Homo sapiens: one gene and its partners. The protein of the gene in region 2 purifies or fractionates together with the protein of the main gene of each other region. This does not show direct contact. Each region holds a gene or a part of one and is shown on either strand. Other genes may lie near its edges. The genes, in order: AMBRA1, WSB2, CCDC9 and ACIN1.

The links.
Region 1: the proteins of WSB2 (region 2) and AMBRA1 purify together in Homo sapiens (co-immunoprecipitation; 3 studies listed by BioGRID and IntAct, with this or other methods). This does not show direct contact.
Region 3: the proteins of WSB2 (region 2) and CCDC9 purify together in Homo sapiens (affinity purification with mass spectrometry; 2 studies listed by BioGRID and IntAct, with this or other methods). This does not show direct contact.
Region 4: the proteins of WSB2 (region 2) and ACIN1 purify together in Homo sapiens (affinity purification with mass spectrometry; 2 studies listed by BioGRID and IntAct, with this or other methods). This does not show direct contact.

Annotation. Positions count from the first base shown.
Region 1 is NC_000011.10:46,542,008-46,549,028, forward strand, and holds part of AMBRA1 (activating molecule in BECN1-regulated autophagy protein 1), read right to left. Parts: intron 6,494-7,021; 5' UTR 6,374-6,493; coding exon 6,239-6,373; intron 5,869-6,238; coding exon 5,810-5,868; intron 5,290-5,809; coding exon 5,106-5,289; intron 3,770-5,105; coding exon 3,597-3,769; intron 2,035-3,596; coding exon 1,968-2,034; intron 1,392-1,967; coding exon 1-1,391. UniProt on the Homo sapiens protein: Substrate-recognition component of a DCX (DDB1-CUL4-X-box) E3 ubiquitin-protein ligase complex involved in cell cycle control and autophagy.
Region 2 is NC_000012.12:118,058,159-118,065,766, forward strand, and holds the start of WSB2 (WD repeat and SOCS box-containing protein 2), read right to left. Parts: upstream 3,022-7,608; 5' UTR 2,891-3,021; coding exon 2,878-2,890; intron 1-2,877. UniProt on the Homo sapiens protein: May be a substrate-recognition component of a SCF-like ECS (Elongin-Cullin-SOCS-box protein) E3 ubiquitin ligase complex which mediates the ubiquitination and subsequent proteasomal degradation of target proteins.
Region 3 is NC_000019.10:47,259,509-47,266,529, reverse strand, and holds part of CCDC9 (coiled-coil domain-containing protein 9), read right to left. Parts: intron 6,210-7,021; coding exon 6,108-6,209; intron 5,943-6,107; coding exon 5,691-5,942; intron 1,928-5,690; coding exon 1,844-1,927; intron 1,758-1,843; coding exon 1,584-1,757; intron 1-1,583. UniProt on the Homo sapiens protein: Probable component of the exon junction complex (EJC), a multiprotein complex that associates immediately upstream of the exon-exon junction on mRNAs and serves as a positional landmark for the intron exon structure of genes and directs post-transcriptional processes in the cytoplasm such as mRNA export, nonsense-mediated mRNA decay (NMD) or translation.
Region 4 is NC_000014.9:23,064,126-23,071,146, forward strand, and holds part of ACIN1 (apoptotic chromatin condensation inducer in the nucleus), read right to left. Parts: coding exon of another isoform or gene 7,000-7,021; intron 5,493-6,999; coding exon 5,351-5,492; coding exon of another isoform or gene 5,255-5,350; exon of another isoform or gene 4,577-5,254; coding exon of another isoform or gene 4,487-4,576; exon of another isoform or gene 4,340-4,486; coding exon of another isoform or gene 4,136-4,339; exon of another isoform or gene 3,235-4,135; intron 1,884-3,234; coding exon 1,841-1,883; intron 364-1,840; coding exon 230-363; intron 133-229; coding exon 1-132.

The DNA of each region.
Region 1 (7,021 bases), on a different chromosome or scaffold from region 2:
ACAGTTCCAGATCTGCTGGACTGGGTGTAAATTCTTTCCCAGTGGCCTGTCTCCTGGTTAAAGGCCACCCCCACAGTCCTCTCCTCCTGCGGACTAGCAGAGCTGCTCAACTCCAGCCTGCTGGAGCTGGGCGTTTGGCCCTCAGTCCGCTCGAGAGGTGGCAACTGGCTGCCACTTGATGGCACACTCTCAAAGGAGCTGGGGACCTGCCAAGAGGAACTAGCCTCGCCAGAGGAGTAGTTAGGTGTGGTTCTTTCCCAGCGCAGGGTATCGTTGTTGAAGGTCAGGAGATTGTGGCAAGCACGACAGCGATTCAGGTGGCCACGGGACAGGTTGGAGTTGTTCTCACTGCTGTGTGGGGTGGGCTGGTGGGAAGGGCCTGGCCTCTCAGATTCAATGTTATTGTTGAGCATTTCCTGGGCCTGTTGGGTCTGGGGAGCTTCCCCACTCAGGCTCTGATCCAGCTCCTGAAGCCGGTCATACTCCAGAAAGAAGCGTCTCAGGTCACACTGAAGCTCATGGCGAATGCTGCCCGAGTTGTTTTGGCTGGAGCCATTCCCTCCATCTGACTCAGTTGCCAACCCTGATGCCGGAAAACCCCTCCCTTCTGTGGCTGAAGTGTACACAGATGCCTGAGAGCCACCTTCCTGCTGTCTCAGCACAGACAGCAAACTCACCGAAGAGGCACTGGTTCTGGGCGGGGGCATGGATTCCGCCTCAGAGCGGGAGTTCAGACTGAGTACTGTCCGGGTCCACTCAGATCCTGTCAACCCAGGAGCTATTTCTCGGTGATACCTAGAAGGGTGGCTAGACAGAGGCCCTCCCAAAGAGCGGCGGGTAGGACCCAGACTGAGGTTGCGGAGCGTGTTGCCGGCAGTGCTGCTCTGGACTGTACTGAAGGCAGACGGCCGGTTCAGGAGGCCCTGGTCCTGCTGCGTTGACGAGGCCTGCTCCGGGGGATGGAAGGGCTCGGTCTGTACAAAAGAAAAGGAAGGGGTAGTAGCTCTGGCAGAAGCAGGGGGGACACTGTCCTGGTGTGGCAAGAGGGAAGGAACTCGAGTGCCAGAGCAGCGGCTGCAAAGGCACAGGATCCCAAGGTGCTGGCAGCACTCAGCTGTGGGGTAACTGACCCGCTGTCGGAGCCTGATGTAAGCGGAAGTCCTGGGGCGCTCCGTGGAGGGCTGAGGGGGAGGCGGTGGGGGTGAGGGGGTAGCAGAATCTTGCACTGTGCTTTGCTCTCCCACCTGGATGCCAGAAGAGCGGGAGGACAGCATGTGCAGGAAATTGTGGAGGAGAGGCGTCCGGCGAACTGGCTGTGATTGCAGGAGGGCACGCTGACGGTAGTGGGATAATTCTGTTCCATCTATGGGGATCTCTGGTTCGTCATCACCCTGCAACGTGGACCAGCATGGGGCAGGGGGTAGAGCAAGGCAGTTAGGTAGAACCTCCAAGTAAATCAAGAAAAACTAACCACTGACAATCATCCAAGGAAAACAATGTTCATAGGTAGGAAACAACTCTCTACCCCTGAAGCACTGACAACTGGCCTCAGATTCAAAATAATCACATGGTATTAAATTTTCCACTCCCAATTAGCAGCATATCTGAATGAGTGCAGCTGACAAACCAATTGTCTTACAAAAGACATCTCCCCATGACATGGAAGCAGTGAGGGGAAGCAAAATGTCAACCAGCCAGAGGCACATGAGTGACAAGCTATCCAACACTGTCTAGTGATGATAAGGGTTACTTCTAATGAGGCAATCACTGGAGGGTTTCAGAATCGACTCTCCTGTCAAGATTATGGCTATAACCCTGAATATACAGTCTGAAGCTAGCTTTAAATCTTGACTGGAAAGATAAGACTTGGGTATTGAGAATTAAAATCCAATATAATCAGAATTGGAATACTAGTTAAGAAAAGAACTCACAGTTTAGCTGGAATTGGAACTGCTGGACTAACTTACCTGTTGATTAGAGGGGTTAACAATTGCTGTGAGTAAGTAGTGTCCAAGTGGATCAAATCTCACCAGACTAAAATCACAGAAGAAAGAGACAAAGACACACATAGAGAGATTATGTTAACTGAGAAGAGGAAACTTGTGTTTGAATTTATAGCAATCATTACTGATAACTGGTATCACTCAGGTATCCACTTCATTCAAGACTTCCAAAACTTTCAAAGAGATTAAAATAGTAACACTCAATACTTCTTGCCAGAGTAAAGGAATATGTATCACAAAAATAACGATTTCACATGAAAAACACCTAGAGTTGCCATCCCAGGAAACAGCTACCTTAAGCACACCTTTGCTCAAATACAAGAGTTCATCCTAACCGTAAAGCATAAAATGCTCTCATACTCTGCCACAGAATCAGTTCTTCCCTCATATGGCAGCTACACCGGCAAGAAGCATGAATCTTGGTGGCAATGAACAGTCCCAGCATTAAGTGACATAGCTGAAACCAGAAAATTGGCCTGTATTCGACTGGAAATCCAAGAGGACCAAAGAAACACAATGCATCAACTTTAATACAGACAATATGTTTTGATCTTGAGGACTAAATAAATGTCAATTATGTGCTTACATCTCCATCTTCCAGTTTGATAAACACAGACAACCCACCAAGGTATCTAAAATACCACCCAAACTTCTTTCAGGTTTTCCCAAAGAAGTACTATCCAAAACAGTTAGCTTTGAAACTAAAAGAGAGTCTAATGACCCTGATCTCCAAAAACCAGAAGATGAGGCCAATAAGGGAAAGCTGAAATGAACAAAATGAATGTCTCCCAGCTGATTAGTCAGCTGCTTAGAAAGCAGGAGGCGGCCAGGTGCAGTGGCTCATACCTATAATCCCAATACTTTGGGAGGCTAAAGCAGGAGGATCACTGAAGGCCAGTAGTTCGAGACTAGCCTGGGTAACACAGTGAGGCCCCGCCCCCCAAATCTCTACGAAAAAATTTAAAAATTAGCTGAGAGAGGCTGCACACACCTGTAGTCCCAGATACTCATAAGACTGAGGTGGGAGGATTGCTTGGGCCCATGAGGTCAAGGCTGCAGTAACTTGGGCCCATGAGGTCATGACTGCACAACTGTACTCCAGCCTGGGTAACAGAGCAAGACCCTGTCTCCTTAAAAAAAAAAAAAAAGCCGGGGGGGGGGGGGTGGTGGTGGGCATGGTGGCTCATGCCTGTAATCACAGCACTTTGGGAGGCTGAGGTGGGCGGATCACTTAAGGCCAGGAGTTCAAGACCATCCTGGACAACATGGTGAAACCCTATCTTTATTAAAAATACAAAAAAATGAGCCGGGCATGGTGGTGGGTGCCTGCAATCCCAGCTACTCTGGAGGCTGAGGCACGAGAATCGCTTGAACCTAGGAGGCAGAGGTCGCAGTGAGACAAGACTGCGCCACTGCACTCCACCCTGGGTGACAGAGTGACACCCTGTCTCAAAAAAAAAATAGGAGGAGCTATGAGGATGACAACTTGCCCTGAGCAGGGATAACAACCTGACTTCCAAGGTGACAGCCAGTAGAATGTTCTCTATCACGTCAGTCCTGTGCCAGACAATGCAGATGGGGCAGCGCACTCACCGGACCCGTTCCATCTCACTAGCTGTCTTCACCACAGCAAAGGGTTCCCGTCGACTCCAGTCCCAGAAGTGGATCTCATTGGCAGTGGCAATCAGCAGGAGCTGAGCCGTAGGGTGGAAAGCCAGGGAGGCAATGGCATTGTTGCTATCTGTGAACCAGCTTTCACTGCCACCCTGTGAATGAACCAATTCCAGATATTCTCAGGTTACAAGCTACCAGCACACTGGGAAGTCAATTTCAAGAAAGGTCCATTTAAGGTAAAATGACTATGTCTAGGGACTACTTTAAATACATCCTCTGTAAAAAGATGTAGAAGATCAGCGATCTGGTAGTGCCACTAATTTATCAGATAAATACTATACAATCAGTTCAGTTCTTCAAATTAGTCACAATCTACAAGCATTAAGCATATATACACAGTTCCTATTTCTTTTTTTTTTTTTTTTTTTTGACAGGGGGTTTCATTCTGTCACCCAGGCTGGAGTGCAGTGGCACAATCTCAGCACACTGCAACCTCTGCCTCCTAGGCTCAAGCAATCCTCGCACCTCAGCCTCCCAAGTAGCTGGGACCACAGGCGCATGGCACCATGCTCAGCTAATTTTATATAATTTTGTGTATAATATTTTTGGTATAATATCCTGCCCAGGCTGGTCTCAAACTCCTGAACTCAAGCAATCCTCCTGTCTTGGTCTCCTGAAGTGCTAGGAATACAGGCGTGAGCCACCGCGCCCAGCCCACAGTTCCATGCAAAGCCTGAGAAAAACTCAAGCTCGGTGCACAACATGGTGCAAGACAACCCGCTAGCCAGTTACTAGGACAAAGAGGATCTTGCTTTGATGATCATGATCGGAGTACAGGAATATCTGTACTTAGGCAAAGATGCCCTAAGACAACAGAAATCCAACCTGAACATATCTTAGAGCCTCCTGTACTATGTCACAACGGGCTGAAGGAAGCAAAAGTAGATGTTCATCTTAGCAAGAATGGAAGACAATCTCAGGGCATGCTTAAGCTATTGCAAAAAAAAAAAAAAGGAATGGAAGACAGGGAATTAGACTTCCTATTAATTAAGTGGGCAATGTCTACAACAATATATTCAGATGTAGTCCTAAGAATCTGGCTAGGCTCTTCCAGAATTAAAAAACCAATGGTAAACAAGTCTCTGCATTTAGAATACCAAAAGAAGCCGGGCATGGTGGCTCATGCCTGTAATCCCAGCACTTTGGGAGGCCGAGGCAGGCAGACCACTTGAGGTCAGGAGTTCAAGATCAGCCTGGCCAACATAGTGAATCCCCGTCTCTACTAAAAACACAAAAATGAGCCAGGCATGATGGCACATGCCTGTAATCCCAGCTACTTGGGAGGCTGAAGCAGAAGTATCACTTGAACCTGGGAGACGGAGGTTGCAGCGAGCCAAGATCACACCACTGGGCAACAGAGCGAGACTCCGTCTCAAAAAAAAAAAATTAGAACACCAAAAGAAAAGGGTATCTTAAGGAAATACTCACGTGTAAATCCCAAATCCTAACCTCCCCATCTAGGCAGCCAGAAGCAATAAGGCCTGAGATGGTGGGATGAAAAGTGACACACCATGGAGTACGGCGGTGTCCAATCAGGGAATGAACACACTTGCCAGTCTTCACCTCCGTAATATAGATATTATGGTTCACATGGGTGGAGGCTAAGAGAGTCCTAGAAAATCAAAGAGTAGAACTGAATTCAGAAGCATGTGGAAGGGTAACCAATCTTATCAACTTTGGACGACATAGAATATTGATGCTACCTGCCAATCCCAACATGAAAGAAACTAAGCTTTGTATGTTAGGCAGTATATCTACAAACAGAAATATTCTGATCTTTAAAAGCTTTTGGCTTGTCCACACTGTCCCCAAATGACACATGCCACATTCGGAAAATATTTTTTCCCACTGGAAAAACCATCATACCACTGGTGAGCTGTATCACACAGGCAAATGATTGTTATTGAGAAACTTTCCAAGTTTTGATCCTCTCAGTTTCCTTTGCTTGTTCTCATGATTTTTCAGGTTAGCACTGCTCATCTACTTTCTTTCCCTTTCCGACACGGGGCCAAAGTGCTGTTCATACAGTACTTCAGAGAGACTTTAGGGACTGACTTGGAAGATCAAGCCAGGCCAAATATACAGAAAGCACTGTTATCACAAATCTTAAGTTATAGATAAATACTGAGTACCTGTCTGGGCTGAAGGCCAATAAGAAGGTAGAGCGTGGACTATCCGGCAGTTCTACTCTCTGGGAGACAAAAAAAAAAAAAAAGTTAAAATACATGATTTGTAGACCATGGTTCACCGTATCTCAAAAGCACATTAACCATTCTAGATTAGCATTCACAGTGTAGGCTTAAAAACTGGAGACAATGATCAAGCTACAAATTGAGAGAGATAAACCTAAATTACCTTCAGGAAAACTGTCTAGCTCTAAAGGAAAAAGATATTTCTAGCACATTAGTTCTTTCAAATTTACAAACAACTCCCTAAGTCAGATATGTCAACTCTCCCACACAAGATAAATATATCCCAACTCTCTGCTGTTAACCCATTCTAAGGTCTCATTCTACCATCACCAGCACAAATCCTATGTGAAATATAGCCATTTTCCTTACCTTGCCCTCCCATTTCATCCACCGGGTTTTATCTTCTACCAGCTCCTGCAGAAGCCGCTGAGCTCCCATGGCCCGAGCACCCCGTTCTCGCCCCCAGAGTATCCGGACAGCATTCTTTTCTGGGACAACCTTCATGGCGCTCAGTAGCCACTGTCACACCAGGCCCAGGAAATGAAGGAGCAAGTAACAGCTCCAACACACTGAAGCAGCTAAAATGAGGCCATACAGGTCCTTGTAAGTTGTCCTCATGGAAATCTTAAGGAACAAAGAATAATGTCAAAGAACGACTTCTGCAACGAGAAGCTTCTAATTGCAAATACAATTCTAGCTCAAAAGGGAAATTATACTTTTCCTATTTAATGACACTTTCTCAGAAAAGACCCTTCCTCCCAGAATTTTTCTTCCAAAAATATTTCATACTCTCATATTCTCCATAGCTCAACCTTGTAGCTAAAGAAAGGATCAGGCCAAGCACAGTGGCTCACGCCTGTAATCCCCGAACTTTGGGAAGCCAAGGAGATTGGATTGCTTGAGGTCAGGAGTTTGAGACAGCCTGGCCAACATGGTGAAACCCCGTCTCTACTAAAATACAAAAATTAGCCGGGTGTGGTGGCAGGCACCTGTAATCCCAGCTACTCATCAGACTGAAGCAGGAGAATTGCTTGAACCCAGGACGCAGAAGTTGCAGAGAGCTGAGATAGTGCCATTGCACTCCAGTGCCTGGGCGACAGAGCAAGACTCCATCTCAAAAAAAAAAAGATTATTTAGGAGTACCTTTCTCAC
Region 2 (7,608 bases):
AAGCTATGACCCCAGCCAGCAGGAAGCTAGGTGATTTTTCCTGTATCAGGACATGTACATTAGATATTCCACCGGCCTCAAAAGCTTTCCTCAGTTGCTCCATCTTATCATTCAGGGATTGGTCCTCATGTCACCTTCTCAGAGACCATCCTGGCCTCACTATCTAAAGCGACCATACACTTTCCTTTTTTATTTTTTATTTTTTTTGAGACAGGGTCTTGCTCTGTTGCCCAGGCTGGAATGCAGTAGCACCATCACGGCTCACTGCAACCTCGACCTCCCCAGGCTCAGATGATCCTCCCATCTCAGCCTCCCCAGTAGCTGGGACTACAGGCACATTCTACCATGCACGCGCCTATAGTTCGGTATTTTTTGCAGAGATGGGGTTTTGCCATGCTGCCTAGACTGGTCTCAAACTCCTGAGCTCAAGTGATCTACCCAAGTTGGCCTCCCAAACTGCTGGGCCACTGCGCCTGGCACCATTCACTTTCCTTTAACCATTTGATTTTCTTTATAACCATCACTTAGATATTTTCTTCTTCTTTTTTTTTTTTTGAGATGGAGTTTCACTCTTGTTGCCCAGGCTGGAGTGCAATGGCGAGATCTTGGTTCACTGCAACCTCCACCTCTCCAGTTCAAGCGGTTCTCCTGCCTCAGCCTCCTGAGTAGCTGGGATTACAGGTATGCACCACCACGCCTGGTTAATTTTGTATTTTTAGTAGAGACGGAGTTTCATTATGTTGGTGAGGCTGGTCTCGAACTCCTGGCCTCAAGTGATCTGCCCGCCTCAGCCTCCCAAAGTGCTGAGATTACAGACGTGAGCCACCCCGGCGCATTTGGTTGATATTTTCTTGATTGCCTGTCATTTTTACGTATTTATTGTCTGTCTCTTTCTGAACCCACCCAAACTTGCCAGTTCACTGCTATTGGGCTACACTGTCTAATAGGGAAATCACATGTGGTTACCAACCACTTGAAATGTGGCAAGTCAGAATTCAGATGGGCTGTAAGTAAAAAATACACAACACGTTTTGAACACTTAGCACAAAAAAAAATCTAAAACATTACATTACAATTTATTTGATTACATGTAGCAGGAATATTTTAGACATGTTGTATTGAAAGAGTTTTTAAATTGTCACCTAGTTCTTTTTTCTTTTTTTTAATGTGGCTACTTGAACATTTTAAATTACATACGTGGCTCACATTAGACTTCTGTTGGTCGGGGCTGGCCTAGAGGGTGCCTGGCACATAGTAGACGTTCAACAAATATTTGCTGAATGAATAAGTGAAGTCTAACCATTGCTCTGAAGATTTCAACTGTTGCCCATTGTATTTCCTTTACAATGGGCTTTATTCCATTTGAAAATAAGTTAAAACTCTGGCCTTTTTTGTACAGTAACTTGGCAGCTCTCAACAACCCTGCCCACACCCTCAAAACGAAGTTGTCAATCTTTAGGAAAACCCCAGAACTGGAAACAGATTTCTGTTAAAAAGGCAGGCTAGCTACAGATTGCTTTCAGATTGAACTGTAAGGAGGCAATGGAAATCAAACGGAAGCTATAAAAAGATTCACATAGGATCTACACAAACAGTAGGGGCCCTTTTAAAAAGAATTCTACGGGTAACACTCACTGAAAAGAAAGCCCTTATCTAGATGGGAAGGAGAGAGAGCTGCCTTTAACTCAATGCCTGACTTCAGCAAACAAAGAAATGTCATTTCCTAAATTAAAAAGTAACACCACCCCAGGGAATACCCAGATTTCAACCTTCCCACCCACAGTAACAAGCCATCAGCAATCAGAACCCTCCAGACCAGGATGAAGCTTGAACTTGGCTGCAAGATTACCATGAAGTTCTGGAACAAATTCTGAGCCCTAGGCCTTGAACCTGCTCTGAAAATTTCTCCTAAGGAAATTACATTTAAACTCGGGTCCTTCAAGACCTGGGACTCCCGGAATCAATTCTAAATCTATCCCAAGTGGGGTTCCGAGGGAAGGTCGTTGGAGGGGAGAGGGCCAAGGCGTGCATGCGTCTTGGGGTTTTTTTCCCCTTGCATAAGAGACACACCTTTCCCACTGAGATTTTATGTTCATCTGGGCTGGCTTGAGGTATATCCAATATCCTCTGACTTCCACGCTGTCTTCTGATGGGGATGGCAGTTAACAAGAATAGAGGCAAGGTCCCCACCCATCAGTGTATCCTAAATTTGCCTGATCATACATGTCACCAGGGATCAGCGTCTCCAGTCCCGCCCCACCTCCACTGACTTAATCTCCAGTGGGAGAGGCTGGGAATAGATTGTTTCAATAGGGAACCCAGACCCCAGACCCCATTTTTACCGGGTCCCAGCCACCCTCCGAGGAAGGTACTAGGATTATCCCATTTTGCAGATCAAAACTGAGACGTGGGTGGCGGTGGTTCAGTGGCTTGTCCACTGTCACGATCACACAGCTTGTGAGGGACAGAGGTGACTCCCATCCAGACATGCAAGTGCGTCCCCTGGCACCTGGGTACCCAGGGGCACCCACCCCCTTGGGGATCTCCGTTTTAGGGCTTGGTGCCCCCCGCCCCGAGTCCCACCCGGGAGCCCCCTCTGTCCCGGTCGGGGGATCTCCTCCCGCAGAAGCCCGATCTTCCCGATCCTGTCGCCGGCGGGAGTCAGGGTGGCGGCCACTGACAACGAAAGTGAAACAAAGCTGGTCGCCGGGCGCGCACCCCCGCCGGCCCCGCGCGGACCTCCCAGGCCGGACGCCCCCGCCGCGTCCAGCCCCCGCCCCACCCCGCCCAGCCCGCCCCGGGGTCGCCTCCCCCCTCCCCGGGGAGAACGGGCCAGGGCCCCGCCGGGCGGGAACGGGCGCGCCCGGCCCCACTCACCTCCGGCCTCCATGGAGGACGCGAGCGGCCCCCGCGGCAGGCGGCGGGCGCCTCAGCCCCCCGGGCCGCGGGCCCTCATGCCGCCCCCGCGCCGCCCGCCCCGGCCAGGCCGCCGCCGCCGCCCGGAGAGGCCATCAGCTGCTTCCCGTCACATGGCGGTGGGCGCGGGCGGAGACGCGCGGGGGCGGGGCGCAGGGGAAACGGAGGGGGGGTGCGGACGGGATAAAAACGGTGGGGGGCAGCTGAGGGAAAAGATGGAAAATCGGGGAGGCGGTACGCTGACGGGATAAAAGCTGAGGGGTTGCTCAGGGGAAACGGGGGCGGGGAAGACGCGCGAACCAGATAAAAATGGGGCAGGGGTGGGGGGAGCTGAGCGGAAACGGGGTGGGGCGCGAACGGGATAAAACCCAGGGGTTGTGCGGGGTCCTGAGGGGAACCAGCGCCGGATAAAAACGGGGAAGGGAGGGAGGTGAACAGAGCTGAGGGAAACCGGGAAAAGGGGAGCGATAGAAACCGGAGTAGGGGAAGCCGGGCTCAGGGGAAAAGGGGGTGTTGGAGAGTGGTAGAGCCGGGCTGAGAGAAAAACCAAGCAGGGGAAGCGGCGATCCGGGGAGAACGGAGAGAGGGAGACCGAGGGCTGTGGGGGTAAGGGGAACCAAAGGGGCTGAAGCGAAATCGAGGGGAGGGGCAGGTGAAAATGGAGCCATGCGAAGGCCGATGAGGGGGGAAACGGGTAAAAATGGGGGCGGGAGAAATAGGTTGGAGGGAATACTGGCCGAGAAGAAACCTGGGGAGAGCTGGGCTTAGGGGAAAATGGGGAGGGGGTGGAAGGAAGGTGTAATAACCGGGTGCTGGGGAGGACGTAAGAATTGGGGGGTGCGGCGAGGGTCAAGGCTAGGGTAAAACAAGGGGGGCTACTCAATGGCTCCGGTAATGGGAGAGGGAAGTGAGGAGAACACGGGGCGGTGGGGAGAGGAGGGCAGGGTGAAAACCGGAGTGGGGGTGGGAACGAGATAAAAAACGGGGCAGGAGCGATTCGGAAGAAGACTGTCCCCTTACCTACCTACGGCGACAGCCTCGCCTGTCCCCGTCCCCCTGAGAAACCTGCTCTCCCTGTCTACCCGCATAGCCTCAAGAAATGGCTCGCTTGGGTCAGACGCCCCCTTTTTAACATTCCAGGGCCAGGGCAGGAGTCATCATGGAGGCTTTTCATGCCTGAAAGACCCCATTTCTTAGTTGTCCGGTCCCCAGTAGTATCAGTGGCTTGGGGATTTCTTACTGAGCTCAGCTCATTGTCCCCAAAATGCCTCCCCTTACCCCCAACTCGAGCGCTTCCCTTTCCTGCTTTGGGCCCAAGCTCTTCCCGCGGTTCTTGGTGTCAGCTTCATTCAAGTCACTCTCCCGCCTCTCATTCCTTTCTCCCCGCCTTTCTTCGCTTCCCTCCAAGTGCCCTCTCCATTTGCCGGTCACTGGTCCCAGAGCTCCGGATCGCAGTGGTTCCATTTTAAATTTCTTTGCTTCCTAACGCAACCTATGTTTTCTACGGTAACTGAGGTTCCCGTGTTCTTTTTCACCATGGTCTCTCCGTTTTAATGTTTCGGGTTTTTTTACCCAGGCCCCTGTTTTATGAGCCCTGGGTACGTCCTTCCTGTGTCCCGTTTGGCCTCCTGGGTTACACTCCTGTTCACCCCGCTTGGCCGGTTTTTTTTTTTCTTTTCTTTGAACCTGCCGGTTTCTCAGTCTCCCCCTTTTCCGCTGGCTACCTGTCCCTTTCTCGCCGCCCATGTTAACTTTAGCATGCCCCGTTCTCTCTCTTCATTTTCCACTGGGTATTTTTTATGTTTCCCAATTTTAAAAACGGCCCAGCGCACCCCTTTTTTTGGGACTCCACTTTTATCTCTGGCACCAGTGTCGGCCTCCTCCACCTCTGCTCCCATTTAATCGCTAATTTCCTGCCTCCTGAGGACCCCCGTTTTATTGTCCAGGCTCCCCCCTCCCATTTTTCTCTTCTCTAATTTTCTGAGTCTCCATTTTTTGTCTCCCAAATTCCTTCGATTCCTGGAGTCTTACAGGCCTCGTTTTTATGTACACGTCATGGAAAAGAATAAAAGGGTAAGGTCGCGGGGCGCGATGGCTCATGCCTGTAATCCCAGCACTTTGGGAGGCCAAGGCGGGCAGATCACCTGAGGTCAGGAGTTCGAGACCAGCCTGGCCGATATGGCCAAACCCAATCTCTACTAAAAATACAAAAATTAGCTGGGTGTGGTGGCGGGCACCTGTAAACCCGGCTACTCGGGAGACTGAGGCAGGAGAATCACTTGAACCCAGGAGGTGGAGGTTGCAGTGAGCTGAGATCTTGCCATTGCACACCAGCCTGGGTGATGGAGGCTCCGTCTGGAGGAAAAAAAAAAAAAAAAAACAAAAAAGGCGGGGCTGAGGTGAGAAGAATATTGTTACCAATTTTTAAAAAGCTAGTAAAAAAAATTTTTTTTGGCAAGTTCGTTTTTCCAAGTCTTTCAATTTACTAACCAGGTCTCAATCAAGATCACAAAAGCACTTACTTAAAAATAGCTTTATTCCATTATCTTTTAAAAAAGGCATATGATAACCTCAGAACTAATTTCTCCCAACCTCCCCCCACCACATCTTAAAATGTAAATAATGGAGAAGGAGCTGCTTATTTTTCTTTGCAGCAGTTCCTGGCCAGTCCCAACGTGAGAAATATCAGTTGGCACTTATTGCATCATAATACATTTTGCCTAGTAAGGATGATTTTCTAAGTCTCAGTGCATGGGTTATTGCAATTTTCCATCTTGTGTTTTCCTGCGGCAATTATGGGGCTTGTATGTGCTTGTGAGAATTGGGGCTAATATCAAAGCCACAGAATTGTGGAGGCCCCCTTCCCAGGCTCCACCAGGGTTTGAGAAAAACAAGAAAAAAGTCAGTTGCAATGGACCTGAAGTGTGTATCTTCCTGGTCCTGATAAATAGATCTCATGGTCTCTAAGTTAACAATACATGCAGATAAGATTTTTTTTAAAGCACAGTGTAACAACTTGGACTTTGCCACACAAACTGTAATCCACTGTCAACAAGCTTGTGGATTTGGGCATGGATCGTCTTAAAGAAGCCCGAATTCTTCAAAAAATCCTTAAAACTTGAAGACCTGGATTTTACCTGACCCAGGATATTACTGTGCACACAGGACTCAGATATGTGACAGCAGTCACAGCTCAGCTGGTCAAAGGTTTATAGTGTTTGACACCAGGACCATGAAGCTCCCATTTGGTAGTGGAAAAACCCTCAAATATTTCCTATCAACAGATGTGTGTGCTAGAGAAGAGGAAGTTGTGGAAAATATCCCAGTGATCCTACAAAACATTCTCTGTGTTCCTAGCTAGGGTTTTTTTTTTTTTTCACCTCAACAGTTTTTGTGTTTTCTTTTTTTAATCTTGTTGCCTCTGAGTAGTAGACTCTTCAATTCTGGAATTTGGTTGCCGAAGACTCTAAAGGAGAGACTCACTCAGTAATTCAGTGACTTTAGAAGCAAGCTGAGTATCTCATTCTAAAATGACACTGATTTACACTGTTGAGAATGGTTAAGTACGTGGGGTACCTTGCAGCAAAAGACAAAAAGCAAAAAGCCAGTAGACCTGCAATTCACAGCTATTCCTGAGGGGTGCACATTGCAGCCCACTCTTGAGCTCCCCAGTGTTCTGAGCAGGGGACAGGGCATACTTCTAGTGATTTGCTCAGTTTAATCCCTTCATCCAAGAAAACAGACCTTCCCCAACCACACCTGCAGGGTTACTTCAGACAACCAGCTTCTCATTTTAGAGTCCCAGTTCCTAGAATTGGAGAAAGGAAGTTCCCCTTTAAGCCCTAGGTCCTGCCCACTAGAGCAGATACGCAACATTAAAGAGTGCAAATTCAAGTCAGTTTTTCATATTTAGCAAACATCCATTGCACCCTTATAAGGTCCTCGACTTTAAGAAATTTATATGAAATCGGAAAACTTAAATCTTGAAACTATACAAGGATCTACTGGAAGCATCAGCAGGCTAAACTCATCACATGGTATTTTCATTCCAAATTTAGTGTTATTGATCAGTGTACCCTCAGAATATCCTTAAGAAGCAGGAAGGAAACAAGTTTTCCTCTTCCCACTTCCAAGACTGAGAAAGAGTCCAGATGAGCTGGTTTGCCCAAGCAATTCTTATCACCAGATACTCCGTTATTAAACGTGTCTCCTGCCTTCTTTGAAAGCAACAGGAGAAATGAAGCATAGGAAAGTCTGCAAGCTAACAGTGTATCACCTAGGAGGCTTGTATATAAATATGAAGCTCTGCAAAATGTAGTTATAATGAAAGGCACTTCCTATTACCAGCTCCCTAACTCTTTTTAAAAGAATTCTATCTCCAGGGAAATAAAACTGGTTAAGACAGTGCTCTGATATGCTTAGTTTAGTTCCTTCATCCAAGAAAACAGACCTTCCCCAACCACACCTGCAGGGTTACTTCAGACAACCAGCTTCTCATTTTAGAGTCCCAGTTCTTAGAAATGGAGAAAGGAAGTTCCCCTTTAAGCCCTAGGTCCTGCCCACTAGAGCAGATACGCAACTTTAAAGAGTACAAATTCAAGTCAGATTTTCATATTTAGCAGGTGATCTTACAAAGATATTTTTCAATAAATGGATTATGTTTTTCAATGAATGGATCTTACAAAGATGTTT
Region 3 (7,021 bases), on a different chromosome or scaffold from region 2:
AGGATCACACAGGGAAGCGATGACAAGGCAGAGATCACAATCAACTAGGCTCAGGTGGCACCTCCTCACAGAGGCCCTCTCAGATCTCCTAAGTAGCATCCCTCTGTCCCCTCAGCTGCTGGATTTTTCTCCACAACACTTGGTAGGACCTCACATCTCACTATATTTTCATTTACTCAGCTCCCACCAGAAGAAACCTCATCAAGGCAGGGGCTCTGCCTCCAAACTCTTCTCCCGCCGGGCGCGGTGGCTCACGCCTGTAATCCCAGCACTTTGGGAGGCCAAGGTAGGCGGATCATGAGGTCAGGAGATGGAGACCATCCTGGCTAATATGGTGAAACCCTGTCTCTACTAAAAATACAAAAAATTAGCTGGGCGTGGTAGCGGGTGCCTGTAGTCCCAGCTTTTCGGGAGGCTGAGGCAGGAGACTGGCATGAACCCAGGAGGCAGAGCTTGCAGTGAGCCGAGATCGCGCCACTGCACTCCAGCCTAGGCAACAGGGCAAGACTCTGTCTCAAAAAAAAAAAAAAAAAAAAAAAAAAAAAGCCAGGAGCGGTGGCTCACGCCTGTAATCTCAGCACTTTGGGAGGCTGAGGCGGGCAGATCACGAGGTCAGGAGATAGAGACCATCCTGGCTAACATGGTGAAACCCCATCTCTACTAAAAGTACAAAAAATTAGCTGGGCATGGTGGTGGGCACCTTAGTCCCAGCTACTGGGGAGGCTGAGGCAGGAGAATGGTGTGAACCCGGGAGTCGGAGCTTGCAGTGAGCCAAGATCACGCCACTGCACTCCAGCCTGGGCGATGGAGCAAGACTCCATCTCAAAAAAAAAAAAAAACCTCTTATCCTCAGCACCTAAAACAGTACCTGGCACATAGTAAGTGCCCAGTAAACAATACTGTTAGTAACAAGAAAACCCTCAAACATACCACAAAGCTGTAACAACTAGAGCCACGTGGTACTGACAGAAGAACCAACAGACGGACAATTTAGGGGTGGACCACCAAGTGCAAGGACACTGCCCCTGCCTCCTCTTCTAGGCCAGGTCCCCACCCCTCACACAGCACCTGCCATGTGGTAGGTGCCTCATAAATGCTGGTGTCATTAACAATGAGGGGAGATTTACCTTGGCAGGAAACAAAACATACCATAAATCCTTAATAATTAAAATCCTGGGCAAGCACAGTGGCTCACACCTATAATCCCAGCATTTTGGGAGGCCGAGGCAGGTGGATCACTTGAGGTCAGGAGTTCAAGACTAGCCTGGCCAACATGGTGAAACCCCGTCTCTACAAAATACGAAAAAATTAGCCAGGTGTGGTGGCACTTGCCTGTAATCCCAGCTACTCGGGAGGCTGAGGCAGAATTGCTTGAGCCCAGGAGGCAAAGGCTGCAGTGAGCCGAGATGGTGCCACTGCACTCCAGAATGGGTGACAGAGCGAGAATCCGTCTCAAAAAAAAAAAGTCCTGTGCTGTGGCACAAAAAAGGAGAGGCCCCATGGCCCTGATCTGTCTGGTTCCTGCTATGCAGTCCCCATCAAAGCCCTGAGAGCCCCGAGGTGTCCTCACTGCCAACACCCACCTGCCGCTCGTGCTCAAGGCCACAGCGCACCCGCTCGAAGTCGGGGCCCCCCCAGTTGCGGCCGTGCCGGCGGCTCTCCTCCCGGCGGTCCCGCTCAGACTCCTCCAGGGGCCCGCTGCGTCGCCGGGGGTCGTCCAGGAAGTTCCGCACTGGGTTGGGTTCAAGAACCCCTTCCTGCAGGCAGCAGAGCAGGGGGTTGGCGCGGGCTCCCCGCAGCCCAGGCAGCTCGGCCCTGCCTCGGGGACACCCGCACCACTGACCCGCTGGTTGCGCTCATACTCGGCGATCTTCTCCATCTCCTCATTCATCTTCTCAATGTTCTGCCTGCGCCGCTCCTCCCACTCCTGGGGGGATAAAGATAGGGACACCCAGCTTCAGGGAGAACTATTAAGCTGCCGGTGCAGGAGACGGGCTGCCCAGCAGGCCTGAGGCTCCTCTCCTCGGACTGGCCTGCTGGCATCTGACCATTTGCTCTCAGCGTGCTCCAGGTCAGCAGTGAACTGATGAGGCTGGCTGGCCAGGCTTGGACTATGCGAACAACACGCTGTACGCTGCATTCGCCTTCCTACTGGGGGGTCTGGAATTTCAGTACATACTAGACAGAAGGGGCCTGCGTTCAAAACTAGCCTCCAGGCTGACATGGTGGCTCACACCTCTAATCCAAGCACTTTGGGAGGCCAAGGCAGGAGGATTGCTTCAGCCCAGGAGTTCAAGGCCAGACTAGGCAACATAGCAAGACCCTGTCTCTACAAAAAATTTTAAAAGTGGCCGGGCGCGGTGGCTCACGCCTGTAATCCCAGCACTTTGGGAGGCCGAAGTGGGTGGATCACCTGAGGTCAGGAGTTTGAGACCAGGCTGGCTAACATGGGGAAACCCCATCTCACTAAAAATACGAAAAAAATTAGCCAAGCATGGTGGTGGGCGCCTGTAATCCCAGCTGCTCGGGAGGCTGAGGCAAGAGAATCACTTGAACCCAGGAGGTGGACGTTGCAGTGAGCCGAGATTGTGCCACTGCACTCCAGCCTGGGCAACAGAGTAGGACTCTGTCTCAAAAAATAAAATAAAATAAAAATAAAAATAACGGGTCGGGCACAGTGGCTCACGCCTGTATTCCCAGCACTTTGGAAGGCCGAGGCAGGTGGATCACGAGGTCAGGAGTTCGAGACCAGCCTGGCCAACATGGTGAAACCCCGTCTCTACTAAAAATACAAAAGTTAGCCGGGCATGGTGGTGGGCACCTGTAATCCCAGCTACTTGGGAGGCTGAGACAGGAGAATTGCTTGAAACCAAAAGGCGGAGGTTGCAGTGAGCCGAAATCATACCACTGCACTCCAGCCTGGGCAACAAGAGTGAAACTCCATCTCAAAAACAAAAAGAAATTTTAAAAACTAAATAAATACAATAAATAAAAATAAACCAGCCCCCAATTAAAAACCTGGAGTGCTGAATCTCTCGTGGGCATCCCTGGTAAGCCACATGTTGTCACAATTCAGTGCTGGAGGAATTCAGCGCATCCCCTGGGACTCCACAGGGAAAGGACTCTTGGAAGTTCATGCCGGGTTTCCTCCAGACCTCAGCCCAGGTACCCCGCCCCCTGCTGATTTTGCTTTGTGATCTCTTTCACTGTGATAAATCTAAGCCATGAGTCTTTCTAGCAAACCACTGAACCTGCGAGTTCAGTGTCAGGGTGCTGGGGGCCCTGGCACACCAAGGTTGCCGCAATCATAGTGGTGGTAATAACAGTAATTACTTGGCAGATGGTTAGGTGACCTACCCCCACCAACCACAATCCGTTCTCCCCTTCTTCCTTCCATGGTAGCAAAAATTTATTGATTTTTTTTTTTTTTGAGACAGGGTCTTACTCTGTTGCCCAGGCTGGAATGTAGTGGTGTGTGTTCACAGCTCACTGCATCCTTGACCTCCCAGGCTCAGCCTCCCAAGTGATCCTGCTGGCTCAGCCTCCCAAGTAAGTAGCTGGGACCACAGGGGCACACCACCACGTCCAGTTAATTTTTAAAATTTTTATAGAGATGGGGTCTCACTCTGTTGCCCAGCCTGGTCTCAAACTCCTGGGCTCAAGCGATCCTCCCACCTTAGCTTCCCAAGTAGCTAGGACCACAAGCCCATACCACAGCACCCAGCATTCCAAGTAGCTAGTAACTACTTGTTACTAGTAACCAAGCTAGTGACAAAATTTTAGATGGGCAAATAGCCAGCCAGCTGTAGACAACGTTTTCATTTCCCAGTCTCCTTTGAGGTTAGGTATGACCAGGTGTCTAAGTTCTCACCAACAGGACATGACCAAAAGTGATAAAGCAGACTTATCTTTCCCCTTCCTGTGAACTGAACCGCAACCATGTCGGCAACCCAGCTGTTACCACAGACAATGACCAGGACCTAGGGGCCACCAAGCAACAAAAACAGGAACCAGGCCGGGCGCAGCAGCTCACACATGTCATCGCAGCATTTTGGGAGGCCGAGGCGGTAGGATCACCTGAGGTCAGGAGTTCAAGGCCAGCCTGGCCAACATGGCGAAACCCCATCTCTACTGAAAACACAAAAACTAGCCGGGTGTGGTGGTGCACACCTGTAATCCCAGCTACTTGGGAGGCTGAAGCACAAGAATTGCTTGAACCCAGGAGGCGGAGGTTGCAGTGAGCCAAGATCATGCCACTGCACTCTAGCCTGGGCAACAAAGTGAGACTCTGTCTCAAGAAAAAAAAAAAAAAAAAAAAAGCAGGAACCTGGGTCCCTGAGTGACATCATGGAGCAGGGCCTCACCCCCTGGACCACCCACCTCCCTGCAGGGCTCAGCATACAAGGGAGAAATAAACTCCTACTCCACTTAGGTCATGAAATTTTTGGAGTCTTTGTGTGACAGCAGCTTGGCATGCCCAATTTAAGTCTAATTATTTTTTTTTTTTTGAGACGGAGTTTCACTCTTGTTGTCCAGGCTGGAGTACAATGGCGCAATCTCGGCTCACTGCAACCTCCACCTCCCAGGTTCAAGCAATTCTTCTGCCTCAGCCTCCCGAGTAGCTGGGATTACAGGCGTGTGCCACCACACCCGGCTAATTTTTGTACTTTTAGTAGAGATGGGGTTTCGCCATGTTGGCCAGGCTGGTCTCGAACTCCTGACTTCAGGTGATCCGCCCACCTCAGCCTCCCAAAGTGCTGGGATTACAGGCCTCGTGAGCCACCACGCCCAGCATTTTTTTTTTTTTTTTTTTTTTTTGATACAGAGTCTCATTCTGTCGCCCAGGCTGGAGTGCAGTGGCATGATCTCGGCTCACTGTGACCTCCACCTCCCAGGTTTAAGTGATCCTCCTGCCTCAGCCTCCCAAGTAGCTGGGATTACAGGTGCCCACCACCACGTCCAGCTAATTTTTGAATTTTCTTATTCCCGTGTAAGTGCTAGAACCAGAAGCTCACAGGGGAAGTGAGCTGCCCAAGGCCAGGTAGCTCACAGAACCAGATTCAACCCATGTCCACGGTGGGCTGTAAGCCACTCAGCTAGACAGACTCCCACCCTGCTGACCTGCACGTCAGGGGTGAGTGAGGTAGTTACAGTAAAATCACTGCTCCCCATAACCAAAGCCGGGGACCAAGAGAAACACACAGAAACAGAATGCCACACAGAGCCTGTGCTCACAAGCACACCAGATAGAGAGAGCCCACCAGACAGACACACAGTGCCAGAAAGGGAGGAGAGATGGGGACGGAGGATGAGTGGGCAAGCATGCACCAGAGAGCGAGAAAAAGGGAGACAGAGAGGGACAGGGAGGGACACGCAGCACTAAGCAGGAGAGGGGAGGGAAGGAAGGCGAGGAGGAACAAGAAGACGGGGAGCAGGAGTAGGAGAGAAAGAGACAAGGAAAAACACACGAGCTCTAGGCGTGAGAGGGAAGGAACAGGGGGAACTAGAAGAGGGGGAGCAGGAGGAGGAGAAGGAGGTGGAGGAAGAGAGAAACAGAGCCAGATGCAAAGGCTCAGAGAGAGATACTGAAAGATGGACACACAGGACAAATGTGCATCTGAGAGGAGGAAAAAACAGAAACAGACAACAGAGAACCTCAGCCAGGGCTCCAGGCGCTGCCTAGCTCCTACCTTGGATTTACGGTCAGAGATTGAGGTGTCTCCAGCTCCAGAGAGGTGAGGTGAACCTCGGCCCCGGCCCCTCCGGCCACGGCCCCCAGCTCCTCCTCCTCGAGGCTGCTCCCCGGGGCTGCCCTCCCAGCTGCGCGATGCTCGGCCCATGCCGGCCCGGCCTCCCTGCTGTGGAGGAGTCCGGCCCCCCTTGCTGGCCCCTGGGGGCCGAGGGGTCCCAGGAGACCTCCGGGAAGGACCCAGGTTCTTCTCCTGGAAGAGGGGAGATGGGGAAAATACAGTCACTGGGGCAGGGAGGCATGCGGCCAGGATGGAGGCCACCCACTGGTGCAGGACAGCTGGGGGCTCCTGGGTCCCAGGCCTCAACCCTCTGCCCCTCCCCATCCTCAGGGTCCCACACCCCAGTGACGAGCTCACCGACTCCACTGCCACGTTCTCCTTCTCCACTGAGCGGCCCTTTCGGGGAGCTGTGACTGCGACTCCCTCAAGTTCAGCTTTCTTACGGTCTTCCTCAATCTCCTAGGAGCAGACAGCCGGGGTAGGGAAGCATCAGGTGCCCTGTCTGCCAGACGGACTCCCAGACCCCTGAACTCCTCCTAAGTCTGGCCCCAGCCCAGGCCTCTCTCCTGGACTCTGAACAAGAAGGCCGCTCATATCCCTCAAACCTCAGCACGTTGCAGCCCCACTCAGAACGTTCCTGTGGTGCCCCTCTGAGTAACAGCCTTCCCCACAGCCTGTGGGACCCGTGGGGTCTGGCCTTGGTACCTCCCCGACCTCATCTCTCACCCTCTCCCCACGATCACTCCGGCTTCCTTGCTATTCCCACAACATACCAGGCTGAAACCTGCCTCAGGGGCTTTGCGCCAGCGGATCCCTCTGCCAGGAACACTTTTCCCAGAGACCCTCCAACCCCTCACCTCCTGTAGGTCTCTGCTCCAATGCTGCCTTCTCGTGAGGCCTTCCCTGAGCACCCTGTGGAAACCAGCTCCCCTGCCACCCTCTCTGTTCTCATCCCATTTGCACCCAGCACCATATGCGTCTCGCTCACTGTCTGCTTCCTCCACTACGGCAGAATCTGCCTGGGGACAGGAATGTCTGTCTGCTTTCAGTGATGTATGTCACTGACGTGTATCCCAAGTCTAGAACGCTGCCTGGCCCACAAGGGAAATTCAATATGCCTTTTTTAAAATGAATGAATACATGAAGAATGAATAAATGAAACCCATGCCACCTCCCAGATCCCATCTCAGGGAGAGCCACATCACCTACTCAGCAGCCTTGTCCTAAATCCTCCCTCTTCCTCCCCCTGCCCTGAACTGCCCATCAGTAAC
Region 4 (7,021 bases), on a different chromosome or scaffold from region 2:
TTTCAGCCCCTTGTCATGGGTCCCATCATCGCCATTACGCTCTGTCTCATCCTCAGAGATGCGAGAGTCATCAGCATGAAGATCCACAACAGCCTCCTGCCCCGCCAGGGGTTTGATGTCGGGGATGAGGCTCTGGGACACAGATACCCCCCACCCCGTTACACTGGGCCCATGTCTACTCCCACCTTAACAGGTCTCATCCTCCCTTCCCTGGCTCCTCCCACCTCACCTTTAGTGATTCAGTGGTGATACTGATGGAAGGTTTCTTCTGTGTGGTGGCTGTGCTGGCTCCCCAGCGTCGTTTCCGACCAGGCTGGCCCCCCTCTGTGTCACTGTTTCCAGCTGGCACCCCCTTGGTAGCTGCTGTCCCCAAGAAATAGACCCAACAGTTAGATGGTCTCAGGACCTCTGCTAGTTCAAACCGTAATACCTACAGGTTACCTCTGGCTGGAGTTTTGGTAAAAGGTTAACTTAAAGAAATCATATTTGGAGGCTGAGTGTGGTGGCTCACACCTGTAATCCCAGCACTTTGGGAGGCCAAGGCGGGTGGATCACGAGGTCAGGAGTTTGAGACTAGCCTGACCAACATGGTGAAACCCCATCTCTACTAAAAATACAAAAATTAGCCAGGCGTTGTGGTGCATGCCTGTAATCCCAGCTACTCAGGGTGCTGAAGCAGAATTGCTTGAACCCGGGAGGCGGAGGCTGCAGTGAGCCAAGATGGTGCCACTGACTGCACTCCAGCCTGGTGACAGAGCAAGACTCCGTCTCAAAAAAAAAAAAAGAAAAGAAATCATATTTGGGAACTGGGGAAACCATGGCTTCAGACTGAACACTGATCTAAAAGCAGTAAGGGAGGGGTAGCTAGTTTGATGAGCCGTTTAAACTTTTAATGGTAGACAGTAATATCAAGTAGTGTGGAAGAAAAACTGAGAAGGACATGTAAATGCAGAAGAAACAAGAACACTATGTGATACTAACATCTAGGCAGAACTAAGATCATGATGGGATCTGGTCTTCCTTTAATTTTCACACTACAGATTGATATTTAAGTTATAAACATCTATTATACTTTTGTAATCTAGAGTTCCTCATTGGGGAAAATGTTAAAATTGTTACTGTTTGAGGTGTGGGGCACTTTCATTTCCTTGGGTGCTCTCTTAGAATAACGCATAAACAAGGTCAGGCACGATGGCTCACGCCTGTAATCCCAACACTTTGGGAGGCCAAGGCAGGCGGATCACAAGGTCAGGAGTTCAAGACCAGCCTGTCCAACATGGGGAAACCCCATCTCTACTAAAAATACAAAAATTAGCTGGGCATGGTGGCGCATGCCTCTAATCCCAGCTACTCAGGAGGCGGAGGAGGATTGCTTGAACTGGGACCCGGAGGCGGAGGTTGCAGTGAGCCAAAATCGCACCACTGCACTCCAGCCTAGGGTACTACAGAGGGAGACTCCGTCTCAAAAAAACAACAACAAAATACCCAGAATAATTCATAAACTGCTAAGCATCACATAGGAGTCCCTGAAACTCATTCCTTGTTGAGTATTCAGGTATCTGAAAGAATAAATGCCTCTAAGGCTAAATGGGACATGGTCTCAGACACCTCACACTGTATCTCATTAAAATGTGACTGGAGCAATATGATGGGGATTGTCTCAAGTTTTGAATTCCAAAATGAAACCCTACATAGGAAAGGATTCAGATTTGCTAGGCACAAGGGGTGGGGCAGGAGGGAGTGACCCAAGAATGCCATTGAGAATGAAATTCTGGTTCTCAATGAATGCTGGTTTTTATGGTATTCCTGACTTTTATCAGGGATTTGGGGCTGGACTTACAGACAACGGAGATCTTCCTCTTGAATGATTTGGGCAGCGAGCTCTGTATGAAGAAGAAAAAGGGGAAAAAAAAGAGAAAGAGAGACACCCCACAGAGAGGGGGGAAGGAGGTTAGATGGGGCAGTCTTAGCTTAGCCTCCAAAGACACAGATAGAGTGAGAGAGAGAGACAGAGAGAGACACAGAGACAGACAGAGACCAAAACAGAAGCGGCAAACGGCAAAAACGAAGCAGAATCAATGCAAGTTAGAGAAAAAAATAAAACTAAACATCAGAGCAGGGAAAAGTCATCTACTCCGTATCACACCTGTGTATTAGCTTAACCAGAAATAAGCTGGAAGAGGAGTTCAGTAGCCTCTCAGCCCCCTAAAGATGTTGGTCATACCCCCTCTTTCACCGTCTGAGTCGAGAGGACACCAAGCCAAACAAACTGTGCCCCAAACTGGGTCATCTAGTCCTCCCAGGTCCTTCCTTGCTAACTCGAGGAAACAAGGAAAACCAACTTTGGATGGCAACTTCAACAAGGTAACCCTCCTTTCTTCAATGGCCAGACTGATGCCCACTGACAATGGCTTTGAGATGCTTGGACAGCAGACTGTCATGTCAAGACTGCCCAGACCCCCACCACACTGTGGAAAAGGGCAGCACCAGACCCACTGGAGATGAGGCTCTTGAGCCAAGTGCTAGCAAAAAGAACTCAAAGGTGTCTTTGATAAAGGAAGGTTTTTATGAAGGGCAGATTGTCCCCAAGGAGATCCTTAGACTTTCCAGCCACCGCAGGGAGCTCCAGCAGAGTCTTACTGTTTCCTCTCCAACCAGGGCTCAAGCCTTAGGGGCTCTGCCAAAGACCAGAAGACATCTTTGGGACAAGTCTCTACCCCAAACACTCAGTGGGTGAATGACGAAAGACTATGGGGGGCGGGGGAGAAAAGTGAGAGAGAAAAAGGGAATAGAGTATTTTCAAGTGTAGGTGCTTATTTCTGGAAAAACTAAGACCACTCTACCACTCTTCTAAAGGGTAGGGCAGAAACCTCGTGATGAAATCCCTTTCCCATCCACCCCCACCCGCAGCCCCGTTTGTGTCGTCTAACCAAGTCTCCTTGGTCTCTGTTAAGGGCCAGCCTGACCCCTAGCTGGGCCGCTCTCGATGGGTAAGTTAGTGAGAAAAACAAAACAAAAAAAAAGGTCTTAATTAAAACAGGAAAAACATGAACCAAATAAATAAATAAAAGAAATCAGAAAAAATAAAGATATAGAAAAAAATAAAATAAAATATTAAAAAAAGAAGAAGAAAATAAAGAAGAAAATAAACTAGGAATATGACAAATGTTCCAGGTACCATCTCACACCTGGGATCTTCAGTTCAGCCAATCGCACCTCACTGTGTACTGTATCTAGTCAACCGCCGGTCCAATCAGAATGAGCCCTCCCTGCTAGGCGCTGTGCAATTGGTGGGGGGTTGGGTTGGCAAAAAAGGTGGGCGCACGGCGTGGTAGTCAGCACGGCACTGCCAGAGTCCTCCCAGGGGCGCAGGGGGGGCGGGAGGGAAACGTGTGGGGGGACGCTGCCCAGTTTCCATGATGTCAAGACAGTTCACTGGCGGTGGCCAGGCTCAGCGAGGGATAGAGGGGGGAAAGGGGCAGAGACATCAGTCCTGGCCCTGAAGGGACATCATCTTGCAGTCCCTGATGAGATGGCCTGTGAGTAGCAGGAATGATCCTTGCCTTTTATCGTGAGAGGCAGGCAGGACCCTATGTCCACCAGTGGCAAGCTGCAGCAATAACACCACCCAATACTTGGAATCCAGGTGATGACTCCAGAGTCCCTTTCTCCTCTGCCTGTAACTGGGGAGGGGGTCCTCTCACCGAGTGGGATCATGGAGCCTCTGATGAAGGTAGCCTGGGGGTAGGTGAATACCCCAGGACCTGGCAGACATTCAGCAGCAAGGTCAGAATACTTCTCTTCGGAGAGTTGTGGCTGGCATCTCCTCAGGGACTCCAGCTGAGACAGTGGTTCCAGTCAGGTGGATGAAATGAGTCCCTGCCTCCAGGGATGGAGGAGAAGTTGGAGCAACCAACATGCTGCCCTTCACCATGGACAACAGGGACCAAAGGAAAGTCCATCTGATGAGCAAGTGGTGACACATGGGCTGGGCTGTCATCAGCATTAAATCCCCAGGGGCTCAGACCCTAGACTCCTCTGCACGGTTCCTAGTCGTCACAGCTTAAGTAGAGGGTCCCACTCAGTGTTTTACAGCATGGCACTGCGATCACAAACTTTAGGAGGTCTTGGTGCCCTAGATGGGGATCCCAACAGTCTGTAGCAAACAAGGCAACCCACAGTCCTCAAAAGGGCAAGGGCATGTGGGCAGGCGCCCCAGCACTGGCACAAGCTCTTCTTGGGGTGTCCCAAGTAGGGAGATGATGCAAGTCCACCCCTTTCCAAATGTTTTTTGCTTGCTCAATACAAGTCTCTCCAGAACAGTGTTCTTCTTGGCCCCCTGATGTAAGCAAGACAGGGAGGCAAAAGGGGGCCCATCACAGGAGCCCATATACATGCCCCCCTCTGGCCAAGACACCTGGATAGCAGACTTGGCTCTGATTGGGCAGCTCAGTAGCAGCGGGTGGGTCCAGAGGAAGAGGCGGCATCAGCGATTGGCCAGTTGGGCAGGGTTATATTTTACGGGCGGATTACCGTACATGAGGTACTTGGACAAAGTTTTACGGGGAAGAAGGACCTTGTAATAAATAATATTCTGCACATCAAATCACTTTCACCGGCCCCCACCCCCGCAACACACACCAGAAAAAGGCTACACACACAACAGTCCCTCCCACCTTGTTACCCCTCTCCTAAACCCAGCTCATTCTTTCTCAATTACTTTAAGAGCCAAGAAGACTTCGCTGGCTCTGATGGGGGAAGCCCCCTGAAGTGGGTGCAGGACACAAGATAACATATGCCAAAAAAGGAGGTAGAGGGGTCACAGGTAACTGAGAATGGGCCTTCCGGATCACAAGTGCTGGCTTCTAAGTAGCTACATCTCTGCAGTCAGACCACTGGAGGGCAGAGGAGGAACAAAAATTTCTCAGCATGGCTGGTCTGGTGAGAACCACCAATGTCCACTAGATGGCGTTGGGCTCCATCAGGCTTTTAAAAAGGAGGGAAAGCTAAAGGAGTTACCACCAGGAGAAGCTTGGGAAGACAGCAGGAAAAGCTGAACATAAATCTTAGATAAAGGGCCATTATCAGACTTTCCCGTTAGTTACAAACGTCTAGAGTCTGGGCACTACTTCCCCAACAAGGAAAGGAAAATGAATGAGCCCTGTCCCCGTCACAAGGGGTCTCCCTTGCTAAACCAGCGAATTCTCCCTTGGCCCTATTCTGATCCAAGTCCCTGCCTCATCCCTCCTTTAAGTTAACCCACCGTGTAAGAGGGATCACTAGAGTGCTCTACTCTTTCCCCTAGGTCCATTCCTGCCCACCCGCCCCAATAGGTGGCTTGGATGTTTACCTCTTTCTTCTCCTCATCTTCAACACTGCCCTCCGGGCGGTCATCATTGCTGACTTGGTCTGCAATAGGCATGGGAGGTTCTGGAACATCATTTTCAGGTCTGTTTTCACTTGTGTCCATGGTCACTTCCTCCTTCTCCTCACTGACAGGAGGGGGGAGTGGTGGTGGGGGGGCGGGCAGAAAAGAACCAAGGGGAAGAGAGAGCAAGATGTTAGTTACTGGGTCAGGAAACCCTCCTGCCTCATCACTTGGGTGGGATTAGGAGGGCTGCTTTTCTGATCAAGGTTAGAGACCTTGTCCCAATGGGAAAAGTGGGAAATAGATTTTCCTTGGGGAAAGAGCGTGGATCACAGCAACCACATCCACCTATTGCCCAGATGAGTTAAAAGTTGTCATTTGTGGGGTTAGGACTCCAACTATTCTCAGGTAATAACTCACCAGAGTACTCCTATATGAAAGGAGAAAAACCCTCCTCTGAAAATAGTCCCACAAAAGTGACTGTGATTTGCCCACAACCCTGTGGCCTCAGTCTCCCTGGCCAAAGGCACCTTTATATGGCAAAATTGCACGAGAAACGAAGGGAAGCCCGATTCCCTTAAAAAGACAAGAAAGAATGGCCAAGGCTTTGGCAAAAAAGCCTGACCTGTGTTTAATCAACTGCTTAATAAGTAAAGGCCTGCTGATCCTCAGGATCTGGAGACACCAGCATGGAGAAAATGGTGGGGGGTGGGGGGTGCGGGGCGGGGGGTGGGAGCTGCAGGGAAGAAGCAGGCCTGGTGAAGGTTCAAGCTTCAAGGACCCTCTCTCATTCAAAAGGAAAAATTAAAACTGCTGAATTGAGTATGAGAGCTCAGAGATTAGGGCCACTTTTACCTGCTCAGAGGTGTAGAAACTGTTCCTACATTCGGCTTTCACCCAGTTTCTCCCACTCCCTCATTCCAACTTCCAAGAGATAAAGAGAGCAGGCCTCCTAGTCAGGACACACCCTCCCCCACACAGGCAGCTTCCCCCAAGAACACCAAACCCACTCTCCCACTCTTAATCTCACAAGTTAGCTCCCATTTCAGGCAAAGAATCCCAGAGATTCACTTCAGATAAACTATCTTTCCACCTTTGATTTCTGTCTTCGTCCCCAACTTCTATCTCAAATCTCACCCCCTCTACCACCCAAACACCAAGCAAAAAAAATCAAATCAAGATGATCAGAGGCCTAAGGCTCAGGAGAGGGGAAACCAAGCCTCCCAGGCCGATAACCACCACCAGAAAAGTCAGCATTCCCAACAGGCTGACTGACTGACACTCAGAGGTCAGAAGAACCTCCCTAGAGCAGTCAAGAAGGGATGCACTAGGGGGGTTAGGGGGAGGGGAAAATCGGAACTGTGCCCCCAGCTAAACAGGCCCCCAGAGAAACACGAGATTTAGCTGCTTACATCTAGAGAAAAGGCTTATACAAAAAAAATATCTATTTCCCATACAGAAAGGGCATGTGGGGCCAATTAGAAACTGGGCAGGCAGGACAAAGGGGGAAGGCAGAATGACTGAAAACAAACCAAAACGAAAGACGGAATGAAAGCCATGAGGAAGAGAAGGAAGACGAAGGGAGCTAGGGCGGCGGGGAAAAGGCATACATGGAAATGTGAAGCTCTCACCCTTCTTTGCTTTCTGATAACA